5 linked regions of the Homo sapiens genome follow. The protein of the gene in region 1 interacts with the protein of each later gene in a biochemical or structural test. Each region holds a gene or a part of one and is shown on either strand. Other genes may lie near its edges. The genes, in order: CDC45, MCM10, POLA1, ORC5 and CLSPN.

Evidence for each region.
Region 2: the proteins of CDC45 (region 1) and MCM10 form a complex in vitro, tested with the Homo sapiens proteins (one large-scale study listed by BioGRID and IntAct).
Region 3: the proteins of CDC45 (region 1) and POLA1 form a complex in vitro, tested with the Homo sapiens proteins (one study listed by BioGRID).
Region 4: the proteins of CDC45 (region 1) and ORC5 form a complex in vitro, tested with the Homo sapiens proteins (one large-scale study listed by BioGRID and IntAct).
Region 5: the proteins of CDC45 (region 1) and CLSPN form a complex in vitro, tested with the Homo sapiens proteins (one study listed by BioGRID).

The regions. Positions count from the first base shown.
Region 1 is NC_000022.11:19,503,917-19,507,435, reverse strand, and holds part of CDC45 (cell division control protein 45 homolog), read right to left. Parts: intron 2,075-3,519; coding exon 1,955-2,074; intron 51-1,954; coding exon 1-50. UniProt on the Homo sapiens protein: Required for initiation of chromosomal DNA replication. Core component of CDC45-MCM-GINS (CMG) helicase, the molecular machine that unwinds template DNA during replication, and around which the replisome is built.
Region 2 is NC_000010.11:13,189,050-13,192,568, forward strand, and holds part of MCM10 (protein MCM10 homolog), read left to right. Parts: coding exon 1-31; intron 32-2,249; coding exon 2,250-2,350; intron 2,351-3,205; coding exon 3,206-3,316; intron 3,317-3,401; coding exon 3,402-3,519. UniProt on the Homo sapiens protein: Acts as a replication initiation factor that brings together the MCM2-7 helicase and the DNA polymerase alpha/primase complex in order to initiate DNA replication. Additionally, plays a role in preventing DNA damage during replication.
Region 3 is NC_000023.11:24,994,196-24,997,499, reverse strand, and holds the end of POLA1 (DNA polymerase alpha catalytic subunit), read right to left. Parts: intron 1,696-3,304; coding exon 1,550-1,695; 3' UTR 514-1,549; downstream 1-513. UniProt on the Homo sapiens protein: Catalytic subunit of the DNA polymerase alpha complex (also known as the alpha DNA polymerase-primase complex) which plays an essential role in the initiation of DNA synthesis.
Region 4 is NC_000007.14:104,198,006-104,201,524, forward strand, and holds part of ORC5 (origin recognition complex subunit 5), read right to left. Parts: intron 2,954-3,519; coding exon 2,753-2,953; intron 1-2,752. UniProt on the Homo sapiens protein: Component of the origin recognition complex (ORC) that binds origins of replication. DNA-binding is ATP-dependent. The specific DNA sequences that define origins of replication have not been identified yet.
Region 5 is NC_000001.11:35,759,972-35,763,490, reverse strand, and holds part of CLSPN (claspin), read left to right. Parts: intron 1-169; coding exon 170-331; intron 332-1,009; coding exon 1,010-1,087; intron 1,088-1,420; coding exon 1,421-1,493; intron 1,494-2,286; coding exon 2,287-2,395; intron 2,396-2,574; coding exon 2,575-3,149; intron 3,150-3,519.

The sequences.
Region 1 (3,519 bases):
TGCACAGGCTGTCATGGAGGGACCAGTGCTGGTAGAGCACCAGGCGGAGGCTGGGCCTGCAGTCAAGGAGCATGCAAGCACCCACTGGCCGCCCTGAGCACTCTCGTAACTCCAGCAGGTGGGCCACTCTGATGGCGGGGCCCTTTCTCACCAGGCCTGCCTGCAAAACCAGGTATCCCAAGAGTGACCTGGAGCCCTTTGACCTTCTTAGCTTAAGCTGACCCATACAGAGAGCCTGTGAAGTGACAGGCATAGACCACCATCCGTCTGACAGGCAGAGAATCTGGAGCACAGGGGTCTGCAAAGTCCAGGTGCTGTGGTCACATGGAGCAGTCATGGCCACACATGACGTAGGAGGCTGGGCGTCACCAGCTTGTCGTCCTGCACCTCCTGCTCCACCTAGCCCAGCCCTCCCTACAACCCATTCCTCCGGAGAGCCCTCCACTGGGACCCCATCCACGAAGCGCCCCCATCCTCAGCCCTTTTTTCGTTTTTTTTTTTTGAGACGGAGTCTCGCTCTGTCGCCCAGGCTGGAGTGCAGTGGCACGATCTCGGCTCGCTGCAAGCTCCACCTTCTGGATTCACGCCATTCTCCTGCCTCAGCCTCCCGAATAGCTGGGACTATAGGCACCCGCCACCATGCCTGGCTGATTTTTTGTATTTTTCGTAGAAACGAGGTTTCACCGTGTTAGCCAGGATGGTCTCGATCTCCTGACCTCATGATCCACTTGCCTTGGCCTCCCAGAGTGCTGGGATTACAGGCGTGAGCCACAGCGCCCGACCTCCTCAGCCCTTTTCTTAAACATATCCATCACTGCCCCTGGCACCGTGAGCGCAGTTGTGAGTGTGGACTGTCCCCCACGGTGGATTTCCCCTCTACAGGACGAGAGCCTGGTCCTGCCTGCTTCCTCGGCATGCTCAGTTCCCACCACTGCCCCTCCCAACTCCTGGGAACTCCCAGGCCTTCAGACCACCATGCTCCCTGCCCACACTCCAGCAGCTTCCTCAAGCCCCAGCATCCTCAGCTCCCTGACTCCCTCCCTCCTGTCTCAGTCACACACTCCCATGGTCCCTGGGTAAGTGAGCCCACCCTGCCACGCACATGATGGGACCAGCTCCAGTGCACAGCGGCTCCCCTCCCCAGGAGTTCAGCCAGCTCCACCCCGCTCCCCAGGCTCCGATGGCCACCTGACTACTGACGTGTCCACCCTCACTCTTCCTCCTTCCCAGCCATCACAGTGCAGAGACAGGGCAGCTCCGTCCCTGACATCATGCTATCTGACTGCTTACAGCCACTGCTGCAGTTTGGGCCAAGCCACTATTGTGTGGCCTTGGAAAGCAGTGACCATCTCCTTGCCCCCAACCTACCTCTACTGGGCAGCCAAGGGACCTTTTAAAAACCCTGACTCAAACTCTGGTCACTCCACAGCCTCCCGCTGCCCTTGGCTCACAAGGCTTGCTCTGGCCTCCTGACACCTGACCCCAGCCAGTCCCCCAGCCCCTCCTGTGCTCAGTACAGCAGCTGCCACACTGAGTGTGGCTGAGACTGTGTGAGATGTGGTCTCCCCATGGTCTTTTCTGAGCACTCCACCAATGTCCCATGTGCTTCTCAAAAGACACGTCACGCTGTGTGATTACATGGCAGCTGCCTTCTTTCCTGACTGCGTGAACCACTGCCCGCACTGCTACCATGTCCAGAGCCAGGCCCACAATAAGCACTTTACAGGGATGTGCTGGAGAAGGGTGATACTTCCAAACTCAGCTCTGGCATTTAGAAGCCAAAGCCACACAGATGAGCTGGGGTAGCACACCACAGCCCCTTCCCCCAAAACTTCCTGCCCCACCTGCTTTCCCTCCTGGGGATGTGGCCAGAACCCACAGAGGGTGACAAAGCAAACAAGGCCTGCTGAGCAGGGGTGCTGCCTGTGCCCCTCAGGCTGGGCCACAAGGATACTCATACTCAAAGGAGATCCGTGTGCAGTCCACGGAGAGTGTGTTCTCCTCATCCTCGTTCCGGTGGTTGTGGCGGGAAACGTGGCGCTGCAGGACACCAACATCAGTCACGTATTTCATTCTGGAAAAAAAAGTAGCACAAGCCTCGGCTGGTTCCCTCCAGCTCTTACCAGGCAGCCTAAGCCTAGGCTCCATTCCCGCTCAAGGCCTTCCTCAGGGGCCTGCTCACCACAGGAGCTGTTCCCATGCAGGGACTAAGGACATGCAGCCTGCATAGAAACCAAGCACCCAGGAAAACATGATTGGATGGAGCGGGGGGGTGTGGTCTCTAGCCTTGTCCACCTCCGGTCCTCATGGGTCTCACACCTCCTGAGAATGGGCACCGCAGAGGCCACAGCCCATACAGCCAAGATGACAGACTCCGTAAGTGACAGGGATCCACAGCAGAGTGGGTGAAATGTTCCCTATAAACTTTACAAAATTAATGAGGGCAGGGGGAGGGGAGAAATGAAAATGAACCCAGCTCGCAGCACATCAGCATCAGTCACTAGGTCGGCGTGCTCTCTGACTGCTTCCTCGTAGCTGCTTGGTGTCTCATTGCCTCAGAAGCATGTAGACCCTGTCACAAGATTGTAGTTCCCCTAACTGCTCCGTAGATCACAACTTGAACCTTAGGAAATGCTGTTTTCCCTTTGAGATATTCCTTTGGGTCCTGTATACTGATGGAGCTACTGACTGAGCTGCTCCGAAGGACCCCACGAGGAGCTGACTAAACCAAGAGTGCAGTTTGTACACCCTGATGATTACATCCCCCTTGCCCCACCAATCAACTCTCCCAATTTTCCAGCCCCTCACCCTCCAGTCCCCTTAAAAGCCCCAGCCCAGGCCGGGCACAGTGGCTCATGCCTGTAATCCCAGCACTTTGGGAGGCCAAGGTGGGCAGATCACCTGAGGGCAGGAATTTGAGACCAGCCTGACCAACATGAAGAAACCCCGTCTCTATTACAAATACAAAATTAGCCGGGCGTGTTGCTGCATACTGGTAATCCCAGCTACTTGGGAGGGTGAGGCAGGAGAATCACTTGAATCTGGGAGGCGGAGGTTGCGATGAGCCGAGACAGCGCCATTGCACTGCAGCCTGGGCAACAAGAGCAAAACTCCATCTCAAAAACAAACAAACAAACAAAACCAAAAAAGCCCAGCCCAGAACTCCTCAAGGAGATGGATTTGAGGATCTCCTCCCATCTTCTCACTCGGTGCCCTGCAATCATGAAACTCTTCCTCTGCTGCAAACTCTGCTGTCTCAGTGTAACAAGTCTGTTACTGCACAGCAGGCATACAAACCTGCTGGTCCTATAACACATTATGGTGAGTCTAGCCTCGAGCCCCTTGTGGGCATTTGCTTGCCTGCGGCTTGGTGCGCCTTCGCTGTTCAGTGGGAAGGACCCAGAGACAAGCCCAAAGCCCAAGCGGCCACTGGGTTCCATTGAACTATATGGGCTGCCACCCGTGCCCTGCCTGTTGACAGGGCAATGTCAACCTTTGGTGCATAGACTGCTCGCAGCA
Region 2 (3,519 bases), on another chromosome or scaffold:
GGGTTTCTTCTGCCTCGTATGCAGCTTCAATGTAAGACGTTCTCGGGCTTCTTTTGGGCAGAGGATTTTGCTTATCAAAGACTAAACCTACTGGTTGTACCTTCCTGTAACCGTCATAGGATACTTGTACAGGTTTTATCTTTCATAACTCACTACTTGAAACAAGTTGGTTAAAGACCGCTTTTATTCCCAGGTAGAGAGAAAAACTTTCAGGAGAGAGAGAGATTGACTTATGTTGTGTTGGACTTTAAGAGAGCCCACTCTTCCTCTTCAACTTTTTTTTTTTTTTTTGAGACGGAGTCTTACTCTATCACCCAGGCTGGAGTGCAGTGGTGCAGTCTCAGCTCACTGCAACCTCCAAGTCCTGGGTTTAGGTGATTCTTCTGCCTCAGCCTCCTGAGTAGCTGGGACTACAGGCGCGTGCCACCACGCCCAGCTAATTTTTGCATTTTTGGTACAGACAGGGTTTCACCATGATGGCCAGGCTGGTCTCGAAATCCTGACCTCAGGTGATCTGCCTGCCTCGGCCTCCCAAAGTGCTGGGATTACAGGCATGAGCCACTGCTCCCAGCCCCTCTTTGACTTCTAATGTGAATAGTGCACCTTCATCAGGGCCATTAAAAATGTGTTAATTACAGTGTTAACACCCTTTTAATTATTTCTCGTATGACTATATGAGTGAGGCTACAGACCTCATGGAACCCAAATTTCATTCAGTGAGTGAATATACTATGAAGCTTCACATGGGGAGTGGGGCGATGCTGGGCAGGCATCCATGGCCCCTTGCCTGGGGGTTCAGAGTCACTACAGCCCCTGACGCTGTAATCCAGGGGTGTCCAATCTTTTGGCTTCCCTGGGCCCCTTTGGAAGAATTGTCTTGGACTACACATAAAATATATTAATGATAGCCTATAAGCTTAAAAAAAGAAAGAAAAGAAAAGAAAAATCTCTTAATGTTTTAAGAAAGTTTATGAATTTGTGTTGGGCCGCATTCAAAGCCATCCTGGGCTGCATGTGGCCCGCAGGCTATGGTTTGGATAAGCTTGTAATCAGTGGCCTCGTCACTACATTATATAAAGCATATCTGAGGACTTGGCACGAGGCAGCTACAGTTGGTCCAAGAATAAAACATAGATTTTTGTTCCCAATCCAGCAGGAATGGGGCAAGAGGACTCATTTCCTGTTTCTTTTTTAACAGTAAGCATGTTTTTGAGATTTAAAATTATTTCTGAATTTTTCCAATCTGCTAAAACAATACATGTATATTAGTCTTTTAAAAGAACATACAATCCAACCAATGGAGAAAATAAAAACCAACTATAATCCTATCACCTGAAAAACTGTTAGTTCTAGGCCAGGCACAGTGGCTTACACCTGTAATCCCAGCACTTCGGGAGGCCAAGGCAGGAGGATTGCTTAAGCCCAGGAATTTGAGACCCGCCTGAGCGACATGGCAAAACCCCATCTCTACAAAATGCAAAAAAAATTAGCTGGGCATGGTGGCACATGCCTGTAGTCCCAGCTGTTTGGGAGGCTGAGATGGGAGAATTGCTTGAGCCTGGGGAAGTTGAGGCTGCAGTGAGTCAGGATTGCTCCACTGTACTCCAGGCTGGACAACAGAGTGAGATCTTGTCTCAAAAAAAAAACCCCAAACTGTTAGTTCCTTGGTATATATACTCCTAGGTGTTGTGTTTCTTCATATGTGTACATTTTTAGTAATATAAAATGAGATCATATTGTTCCTATTCTTTGTATCCACTTTTTTTCCAGTGTAAAATAATTAATGTTTTTCTCATGTATTTTCAGTGGCTACATAGTGTTCTTTTGCATACTCTGCCTTAATTCATTTAAACAATTCCCTGTGGGTGAACGTTAATGGTGTTTCCAATGTATGACATTATAAACAAAGCTGCCATTAATATCCTAAATTTTTGCATAATCCTTAATTATTTTAAGATAAATATCCAGACTGCTGGATCAAAGCATTGGCTTTTTTTTTATTTCTTTTGCCAAATTTCCTTCCAGAATGGCCTCAAGTGGATTTGTAGGCTGCCTCTAGCTTTTCCTCTGTGACACAGTGCATAAACCAGTTATGCTATTGGGCCGTAACATTAAGAAAGCCTACTTAGATGGTGTTTTGAGAAACTTTGACGGTGTGTGTAATAAATGATGATATCTATGCCTTCTTTACCTCATCAGAGCATTGAGGCTTTAGTGATTCTCCTTTTGGGGGTGACTTGTCATTTCAGTGCAGCAGCTGTGGCTCCTAAGAAGAAGATTCAAACCACTCTGAGTAATCTGGTTGTTAAGGGCACAAACTTGATCATCCAGGAAACACGGCAAAAACTCGGTAACTTTGTTTTTCCATAAGAAATTTCTTTCTCCAGTTTAATTATGCAGCCTTAGGGATAAAAGACTACACATTGGGTACAGGGTACACTGCTCCGGTGATGGGTACACCAAAATCTCAGAAATCACCACTAAGAACTTATTCATGCACAAAAATAAATAAATAAGCAAGCAAGCAAGCAAGCAAGCAAGCAGTCTTTAGGGTTGAAAATGGATACAGCTCATACTCTTAAGTAATAAGAATCCAGTCATCACCTGTACTTAGTGAGTGGCGCGGTCTAACCTAAAGGAATCAAGCCAGGTTTGCAGGACCTTAAGGAAAAAAACAGCATATTGATTTTAGCTATGTCTTACCTTAGTATGCTTTTTAAAATTTCTTGGTGTATCTGGGTCCAACTCTTTACATCCAGCATTAGAATCAGCAGTATTATCTTCCTGGCCAAGCTTATTGGTTATCTTTTGTTAAAATGGGTCTTGGTCATAAAAACAAAAAAATTTTTAATAAAATAAAAACAAATAAAAACAAGTCTTGATCAGAGAATGCAGCCCCCATCCTGGGCTTGTGGTCAGGGACCCTTATCCTTAGCGGATATTCCAGAAACAGGGTATGGAATGACCCCCAGATTTAAGGGCTTAATATTCTAATCATTACTAGAAATAAAATATAGTCGAGATACCCTGCCATCCTATGAGTCTGATGATAGAGGTTAAGGATTCTTTTCTTTCCTCTTGGGATTCCGTCTTCTTCGTTTACGTATGACTAAAATTACAAGTGCAGAGTTTAGAAAGTGGTATGTCATATGACCTCAAACCATCTGAATGTGAATCCTCTAAAGCTGGTGTTGACCTGGCACAGGAATACCCCAGAAGAGCCTGTCTTGCTCTGAGGAGTTCAAGGAACTGATGGACCTGCCGACGTGTGGAGCCAGGAACTTAAAACAACATTTAGCCAAAGCCACAGCTTCAGGTACCATCAGCTGCATGGCCACACGTGTGTCCCTGTGTTCCCTCAGCCTCCCAGGGCACCCCCTCAGTCTGGGCTTCTGTTTCAGGGATTATGGGGAGCCCAAAACCAGCCATCAAGTCCATCTCGGCCTCAGCACTCTTGAAGCAACAGAAGCAGCGGATGTTGGAGATGAGGAGAAGGAAATCAGAAGAAATACAGAAGCG
Region 3 (3,304 bases), on another chromosome or scaffold:
TGCTGCTGGGCTCTTGGCTTGGCTCTCTAAGTCAGCAAAGCACGTAAGAAACCATACTTCATCTCTTAAATGACCTAAAGTCACAGAAATTCTGAATGCTTCTCAGAACATTCGACCAAATATCATGCTGTGCACTCCTGAGCTGGGTTCTGATAGAGGTGGCTATGAAGAAACTGGGCTGAGGTTTGAAAAGGGGATGGCCTCTAGTCATATATATATATATGTGTATATATATGTGTGTGTATATATATATATGTGTGTGTGTATGTATATGTATATGTATATGTATATGTATATGTATATGTATGTACGTGTGTATGTATTTAGAGGTGGGGGCCTCACTATGTTGCCCAGTCTGCTTTGAACTCCTGGGCTCAAGCCATCCTCCTGCCTCCACCTCCCGAGTAGCCAGGACTACAGGTGTGTGCCACAGCAACTGGCTCTACTCACATTTTACTCCTTGCTGCCTCTCTAGTCAACTCTTTGCACCTGGTAAGGATTCACCACAACTGCTTTCCCTTTAGAAAACTTTATTCTTAAGAAGAAGGCACAACATACTTTTTCTTTTATAAAAACACACAGGTCAATGTTTTTTAAAAACACAGCATAATTGTACAAGGGGAAACATTTTGTTAGTATAATCTTACCAATAATGTAAGAGAGGAAAGACTGCCATACTGAAATACATTTTGCTGCTGCCAAAGACGGTCCTATTGTGAAGAAATGAGAAAAAAATAGCAAGCGCCAGGGCCAATTAAGCATCCCTCTCCCCGTTTTTCTGAATACAACACAGTGATCCTCACCGTAACCCCTACACATGTTAATGGATTGTTAGAGTATCAAATTATTTTCAATGTGCTTTCTTGTTGTATAAACCTTTACCTGCACTTTCTATTTAAGGGGCAAAAAGGGAATGTGAGTGTAAAACACCTGCTCAGTGTGTGTCTGTTGGACTTTGGAGCAATTCAACAAACAAGCCTGCTCTGTTTAATCTATTTAGTGAGTGCAAGGCTTCTAAATCTTCCCCCTCAGCTACCTATATAAAAGACAAGACTGAAAAGGACAGCCACTCCTGGATGGCTGGAGAAGCATTTGGATTTAGACCGGGTTTAATTGGCATATGAAAAAGCAAAACGTCAGCTCTTCAGTCAGGCTCTGAGAAGCTCTCTTTATGTGGGGGGGACATAGGCTAAAGGCCCTGAGGCAAAGCCTGGGGTCACTTACATTCCAGCTACTCTCAATCCAAGTAGCAATTTCCCTCCCTCAGAAACCGGGTCTTCAGGAGCTTGGGGAGGGGAGCTTGGGGAGGGGCTCTGGAGTTGTGTTTTAAAGCAGTACATCTTAATATGAAGACAGGAATTTCTATGATGCTTACGAACATTAGACTCAACATTTTTGCAGCCCCCTTTCCTGGTCTACATTCACACAAACATGAGACACAGTCCCAAGGGAGAAACAGATGCTGGAGGAGCATTTAGGGCCAGAGTGGAGGCACAGAGGAAGCTGGGATTTTTCAACTACCCCCTCCTTGGTTACTCCTGGGATTCCCTTAGGATTTCACGGCACAACCAGCGAAGAGTTTGCTCAGATTCACTTCGGAGTAGCCACTTCGGGACAAGAATTGCTCTGCTGTGTTCTTGAGTTTTCTGTAGTCCTGCAGAACTTTGGGGGTAAAAAATTGCTTCTTCAATTTATCTAAAAAGAGAGAGAGAGAGATTAGAAGTCTCAGGTAGTTTCTTTAAAGAACATTCAGTATTCCACCAGAGAAGGGGATGCTGATTCCATTTGTATCTCCACCATCTTATCTCTGGTCTACCCCTGGGGCCAGTCAGATGCAGCCCCCGCCGACCATTCCTCTGTGAAAGCTTTTCTTCCTTTCCCCTGTCTGTCCGCCTCTCAGCACCTAGCTGACTCAGTGCACTGGGGGACAGGGCCACCCTCTACTGATGTGAACTGCAGGTGCACCCTCATGTGCAGCAGACAAGGTGAGCTCTACTCGCAGACGCCACTTTCACCGGCGCTGCGAGCACATGCATGCAACTGCTTGCGAAGTCTGGACGTGGCAGGAAACACCTAGTCTCAAAGGGAGCTATGGCCTCTGGTGCCTTCCAGCCCCAACTCCCCAGATCAGCTGGGCCTAGTAAGCATTTTCTAGTCCCTCCAGCCCAAGTCCCTCTGCTAAACAAAATTTCCTTTGCTGAAAGAGGCGAGAGGTGAGCGGCCCCGAGGGCACCTGTCTGTCCATGGCCAAGATTTCTTTGCTCTTCTTTGTCCACACTGTGTGAACTCAGGGTATGCGGCACTCCTGCTCCTTTAACCCATTCATCCCTGGCCTTTCCCTTCTGAGCAGGATGCTACCAGCCAGAGAAAAGACCCCTCTCCTTTCCCTTCCCAGAGCCTGCTACTTCTACATGTTGTTTTTTTTCTTTCTTTTTTTTTTTTTGAGACAGAGGTTTGCTCTTGTTGCCCAGTCTGGAGTGCAGTGGCGCGATCTCGGCTCACCGCAACCTCCGCCTCCCGGGTTCAAGTGATTCTCCTGCCTTGGCCTCCCAAAGTGCTGGGATTCCAGGCGTGAGCCACTGCGCCCGGCCCTACATGTTGTTCTTTTAAAGGAGCAGTGGGGCTGTGATGCTCAGGTCTGATCTTTTGGGTGAAGAGAGTGATCACGTGGGGGATGACGCTGTGTTCAGGAACCTGGTAAGGTGTCTGGAGAGGCTGCTTTCCCCGCGCCCCCCCCACCCCCAATCCCCATTTGATGGCTGAGGAAACTGGGAGGTTAAGTCACTTACCCAAGGTTACACAGCAGGTAATCAGAGTTGTAGACACGCAAACCCAGGTAGCCAGAACCCCCAGCCCGCACCTGAGGAGAGGCTCACTTCTGCCCACTCCCCCTGCCACTACATCACTACTCCCACATAGAAATTTGCAGGCCTCAGACATCAGCTGATCCTGAGGTGAGGCCTCCGCCCCCATAAGATGCTGGCCTGTGCCAAAGGGCCTGGGAGCAGCAAGGCTGCCCAGCACCTCCCGATAGGAACCGGTCAGGAAGGAAACACGGAGGGGAGAGCGCGCCACTCACAGAAAGCAAACCTCCAACAACAGCAACACGGGAAGTCTACAAAACACCCGGAAAACGAAAACTCAGACTCCAGATTTTTGTTTCTTGGCTATACATTCGCATTTGCTCTCCACAACCTTTTCTGAATTACATAAGTTGTCCTTTAAAGAACAACCACAGGTTTTATAGAGAATTAAAATGCCCAAAAGGGGTGGAAAAAGAGAGGGGGGCTGCAACAGAAAGACA
Region 4 (3,519 bases), on another chromosome or scaffold:
GTTATTGAGAGAATGGCTTTATTATAAAAGGGACTTCTGCCACCTCTTGCTCTCACTCTCATCCTCTCTTGTACTTCTACTTTCATCATGAGAGGAGGCAGCAAGAAAGCCCTTGCCAGATGCAGGGACCTCAACCTTTGACTTCCTAACCTCCACAACTGTGAGAAATAAATGTCTTTTCTTTATAAATTACCCAGTCCTTGGTAGTCTGTTATAGCAACTGAGTAATAGGCAGAGGTTGGAACAGGATGGAGGGCTCAGAAGACAGGAAGAAATGGGAAAGTTTGCAACTTCCTAGAGACTTGTTAGATGGCTTTGACCAAAATGTTGATAGTGATATGGACAATGAAGTACAGACTGAGGTGGTCATAGATGGACATGAGGAACTAATTGGGGACAGGGAATAAAAGTGACTCTTGCTATGCTCTAGCAAAGAGAAGGGTGGCATTTTGCCCCTGCCCTAGAGATCTGTGGAACTTTGAACTTGAGAAAGATGATTTAGGGTATCTGGTGGAAGAAATTTCTAAGCAGCAAAGCATTCAACAGGTGACCTGGCTGATTCTGAAAGCATTCAGTCATATGCATTCACAAAGAGATTATCTAAAACTGGAACTTACATTTAAAAGGGAAGCAGAGCATAAAACTTTGGAAAATCTGTGGCCAGACCATGAGGTAGAAAAGAAAAAACCCATTTTCTGGGGAGAAATTCAAGCCAGCTGCAGAAATGTGCATAAGTAACAAGGAGCCAAATGTTAACAGCCAAGACAACGGGGAAAATGTCTCCAAGGTCTTCACGTGGCAGCCCATCCCATTACAGGCCCAGAGGCCTAAGAGGGAAAAATGGTTTTGTGGGCCAGGGCCTTGCTGCTTTGTGCAGTCTCGGAACTTGGTGTCCTGCATCCCCACTCATGGCTAAAAGGGGCCAGCGTATAGCTCAGGCTGTTGCTTCAGAGAGTGCAAGCCCCAAGCCTTGGCGGCTTACATGTGGGGCCTGCAGGTGCACAGCAATCAAGAATTAACGTTTGGGAACCTCTGCCTAGATTTCAGAGGATGTACAGAAATGCCTGGATGTCCAGGCAGAAGTTGGCTGTAGGTGCAGGGCCCTCATGGAGAACCTCTACTAGGGCAGTACAGAAGGGGAATGTGGGGTTGGACCCCCCCTACAGAGTCCCCACTGGGCACTGCCTAGTGGAGCTATGAGAAGAGGGCCACCATCCTCCAGACCCCAGAATGGCAGATTCAACAGCTTGCACTGTGTGCATGGAAAAGCCACAGATACTCAACGCCAGCCTGTGAAAACAGCAGAGAGGGCAACTGTACCCCGCAAAGCCACAGAGGTGGAGCTGCACAAGGCCATGGGAGCCCACTCTTGCATCAGTGGGCTGGATGTGAGGCATGGAGCCACAGAGGTCGAGCTGCATGAGGCTGTGGGAGCCCACTCTTGCATCAGTGGGCTGGATGTGAGGCATGGAGTCAAAGGAGATCATTTTGGAACTTTAAAGTTTAATGACTGCCTTATTGGATTGCAGACTTTCTTGGGGCCTACAGCCCCTTTGTTTGGGCCAATTTCTCCCATTTGAAAAGGCTGTATTTACCCATTGCCTGTATCTCCATTGTATCTAGAAAGTAACTAACTTACTTTTGATTTTATAGGCTCATAGGTGGAAGGGACTTGCCTTATCTCAGATGAGACTTTGGACTTGGACTTTTGGGCTAATTAAGCTGGAATGAGTTAAGACTTTGGGGGACTATTGGGAAGCCACAGTTGACTTTGAAATGTGAAACCGACATGAGATTTGGGAGAGGCCAAGTGTGGAATGGTGTGGTCAGGCTTTGTGTCCCCATCCAAATCTCATCTTAACTTGTAATCTCCATAATCTCCATGTGTCAAGGGAGAGACCAGGTGGAGGTAAATGAATCTTGGGGGTGGTTCCCCCATGCTGTTCTTGTGATAGTGAGCTCACATCTGATCTGACGATTTTATAAGGAGCTTCTCCTTCCTTCTACTTTGTGAAGCAGGTGCCTTGCTTCCCCTTTGCCTTCTGCTGATTATAAGTTTCCTGAGGCCTCCCCAGCCACGCTGAACTGTAAGTCAATTAAATCTCTTTCCTTTATAAACTATCCAGTCTTGGGTAGTTCTTATCCAATTCCAAAGATGATCATTTTAACATGTCTTCAGAGTAACCAGGCATATTTGTTGCTCTAAAGTCTTTACTATCTCCTATCCACTCCCTAAGAAATTAAATGAAGTGCTTTAGTATAGTTTTCTAGACCTTCCACAATCTGCCCAACCTATCTTCCAGTCTTCTTTTTCTCCCGTCATACTTTATAACCCACTAAAACTAGACTATTTGGTACTCTCTGGCCTCCATTTTCAGCTGCATGCCTTTACTTATATAATTCTATCTGAAATTCCTCTACTTCAATTTCTTCCTAGAATACTCTGATTCATTTAGGTCTGTCTCAAATGCTAATACCTCATGAAGCTGTATTGGACACACACAGTCAATATTTTGCATCTGGTGACAATCACTTATCACATTCTGCATGTAGTCGTATGTATGTGTCATACCTTTTCTATTAAATGAAGCTTCCCTTGGATAAGGAATATATTTAATACATTTCTGTATACTAAAAGCACCTGGCACAGAGCACTGTACATAATGAGACTCAAAACAAATATATGAAAATTGATCTAATAAATTATCAGTTTTCAAGATAAGAGATGATCTAATCAAATGAAATTACTTACAATATATACAGTCTGATCTTTAAGATTTTCAGCTGTGGTTACTTGTTTAAACAAGCGAACAAAGTCATTAAATGTTTCACAGGTTATTTCAGTAGAACATCCATCCTCTGAAGAACTAAGATGATTCAATTTGTTTAAAATTTGTTCCAAAAGCAGCCTCAATGTAAAGCATTCAACACAATTCACAAACACATGTGGGAGCTGAAAACGAAAACCAAAACACTGTAAGTAAAGAAGAAAACACACAAACACAATAATGGCTGTGCTGGATAGTCTCCATTTGCCTTTCTAAATCTATATCCCACCAAACCCACCCCATGCCCCAAGAGCCTGACAGCTACAGAATTACATCACCTGGACTCTCTTATTTTCTGTCTCTGGATGGAGAAGCCAATGGAAAGAACCAGCAGGAGACTAAGGGAGAATGGTGGGAGAGAAGTTTGGATATTGATTTCCTTGACTCCCACCATGACCCCTCAGTGGCCCTAGCTTGGCAGTGGATACTCTTCTACCAAAGATCAAGTTGGACAGCCCCTCTTCTAAGGCTACACCTCTTGTTTGGTTCCAATAACAGCTCCTTTCTATGGTCCCTTCAGGCCTGGAGGTGGTAAAGGCCCTGGTGTACCATCATCCCTTAGTGATTCCCATAAAATTTCCATTATAAAACTGTCCCTTCATTAAACTCACTTCAATTATTTCTTTCAGCTTGCCATTTCTTTCTTATGGAAATTCAAAGCAAATTTGTATTTTCCTATAAAGAATTCTTA
Region 5 (3,519 bases), on another chromosome or scaffold:
TCAAAGGATACATGTGAGTTAGAAACCAGTAAGAATGTTCTAGATTTTATATGCTTGTCTGTTGATGAAACATGGGCTTTTTCTGGCCTGATCCAAATTGCCATATGATGTTGTGAAATACTGGATTTTTAAATGATTGGATTATGCTTTTTGTTTATGTATTACTTAGGAAGATGATGTAGAACAGCCATTTAATGACAGTGGCTGTCTTCTTGTGGATAAAGACCTTTTTGAAACTGGGTTGGAGGATGAAAATAACTCTCCATTGGAAGATGAAGAGTCATTAGAATCAATAAGAGCAGCTGTAAAAAACAAAGTAAAAAAGCACAAGGCAAGTAAAGCATGATTGCAATAAGAGTTAATCAACTGCTTCTGACCTTTGCTATATTTTTAATTTACTGTTGGAACCTTAATTTTTTTTTTAACTGAAGAAAAACTTGTGTCAGTTGACTTAAGTGTTTCAGCTGTTAATTTTGGAGACTTGCAGTACAAGTGATAGACATGCTAACTTCTTTGGAAACTAGTGTTTTGTTATTACCCTTTTAGGAATGCTGAAAAAAAAAACCACTAAGATATTTGATGGTGTAGTAAGATGCAGGTAAATAATAGGGAAGAGATGTAAATTTTGCAATCCTATAGCCTTTGAGAAATGAACCCTATAGGGTTTCAGGAAGGGTATCAAAGAGAGGCATCAGTCAAAACATTGTTGTCCCGAGTGTTTGGAAGCATAATTTTTCTTCCTAAGATTTTTTTTTAGCTTCCTGCGAGTTATTATCCCTCTTTAGGGAAAGATGTAAGCAGAGGTAAAAGAAATAAGGGTCCAGACTCCATCTGAGGTATCTGTTTTCTAAGCATAATAGGATGCTGTGTGTTTAATAATTTCTAGTTGATGATTATTGATTTATTAATGTAGCATGATGTGGTGTTGGACTACAAAAGTAGTCTTCAGCTAAAGCATCCTCTTATTTGAATTTCGTTTTTGTCCTAATCAACCTGCCATTTCTTTTAGAAAAAAGAACCATCTTTGGAGAGTGGGGTCCATTCATTTGAGGAAGGAAGTGAGTTATCAAAAGGAACCACGAGGAAGGTGAGGTAGAGCCCTGTATATTAGTCACACTGATCTCTTTACACAGGAGATTATAGATTTCTTAGGGATAAATATTTTATTTTGTCTATCATATTTTTCTGTTACCCATCATATTGCTTTGTACATAGTAGGAACAAAATATGGATTGGATTGAACAAATTCTCTGAGACTTGGGAATAAATGAATTCCTTGAGTTTATACTGCATTTGGGCTTACTCATGCTTACTATTTCCTTTCCTCTTTTCTTGGAGAGAGCAAACTCTTGAGTGATGAATATCTATCTTTCTGGATATTCATATAATTAATGTAGTCTCACTTCTTGTTTTCTTTAAGGAAAGAAAGGCAGCCAGATTAAGTAAAGAAGCATTAAAACAACTGCATAGTGAGACTCAGCGCCTTATTCGAGGTAATGCAACCCAGTAAACTTTGAGGCAAAATCACAACATTTCTTTGTAAGCTCAACTTGGATGTTGGGGACTTTTATTTTTTTAACACTTCTAATGTGAACTCAGGTTATAATATTAAGTTTAGAATTGATCTTGGTGAAAGGCCATTGTTCTAAAGCCCTTGGAACATTAGTATAAACTGAAGAAATTTTCAGAACTGTAGTGCAGGTAAGGAGGAAATTTTTTAATGGTTGTCTATGGACTGATTGTGTCAGGATTCTTTGGAGAGGTAGTAATCCCTCCCTATTTGCAGTTTTGGTTACCTGTGTCAGCCATGGTCCATGGAACTTAAAAATATCATCCCTTTGTCCAGAGTATCACGCTGTATACATTACCTGCCTGTTAGTCCGTTAGTAGCCCTCTCAGTTATCAGATCAAAAAAACACTGCATGGTTTAGTACCATCTGCAGTTTCAGGCATCCACTGCAGGTCTTGGAATGTGTCTGTCTGGATAAGCGGGGACTACTGTATATAAATGTTTAGGTCCCACAGAGATTCTGATTCAGTAGATTCGAAATGGGATCCAAGAATCTGTATTTCTAAAAAACTTCCTGGATCATTTTGATTTCACATCTAGGTTTAAAAGCCACTGGTCTTCAGGGAGCTTTTTTGTACTTAGCTCCTCTGCCTTTGTTAAAGGGGAGTTTTCTATTTCTAGTGATGGCTTTGGTTATTATGTTTAGTTAACTGAATATGAAGTGACATTTCAGAATATACAGTATATATATTTGCTTGTTTTATTCCATTTTATAGAGTCTGCACTGAACCTTCCATATCATATGCCTGAGAATAAAACCATTCATGATTTCTTCAAACGTAAACCCCGGCCCACTTGCCACGGAAATGCCATGGCACTATTGAAGTAAGAACCCTCTTTCCTTATTATAATTTTCATGAACATTTAGTTTTGTAGCAAACATCTGGCATAAAAAGTTCAGATTTCTCACTCCCTTAAAACTGATTTAACTGATATATACTAAGGGATGAGAATGTTTCACATTTAGGATAATTTTCAACTCCAGCTCAATTTCTCTTCTCTAGGTCATCTAAATATCAGTCAAGCCATCACAAAGAAATCATAGACACTGCAAATACTACTGAAATGAACAGTGATCACCATAGTAAAGGTTCTGAGCAGACAACAGGTGCAGAAAATGAAGTGGAAACTAATGCACTCCCTGTAGTTTCAAAGGAAACCCAGATCATTACTGGATCAGATGAGTCTTGCAGGAAGGATTTGGTAAAAAATGAAGAGCTAGAAATTCAGGAGAAACAGAAGCAGAGTGACATTAGACCTTCACCTGGGGACAGCTCAGTGTTGCAACAGGAATCCAACTTCCTCGGGAACAATCACAGTGAGGAATGTCAGGTTGGAGGGCTTGTAGCATTTGAACCTCATGCCCTGGAGGGTGAAGGCCCCCAAAATCCAGAAGAAACAGATGAGAAAGTGGAAGAGCCTGAGCAGCAAAATAAATCATCAGCAGTTGGGCCACCTGAAAAAGTGAGACGGTTTACTCTGGATAGACTTAAGCAACTGGGAGTAGATGTTTCCATTAAACCACGGCTAGGTGCTGATGAAGATTCCTTTGTGATACTTGAACCTGAAACCAACAGAGGTAATCCTTTACATTGTGGGGAGCCTCCCTGGAGTGATTATCCTGGTAGCTTTTGATTATTGACTACTGTCGAGGACAGAGAACACAGGAGGAACCAATAACCACTTTGATCTTATCCTGCAGTTGTTCCAGATATGGGCAGAGTCTTTTTTAGAGAAATTTGGCAGGGTATCAGAATGATCTAAGCCATGTTTAAAATGGAAGTCTGTTGGCTGGGTGCGGTGGCTTACGCCTGTAATCCCAGCACTTTGGGAGGCCAAGGCGGGCAGATCACGAGGTCAGGAGTTTGAGACTAGCCTGGCCAATACAGTGAAACCCCGTCTGTACTAAAAATACAAAAATTAGCCGGGCATGGTGGCACGCATCTGTA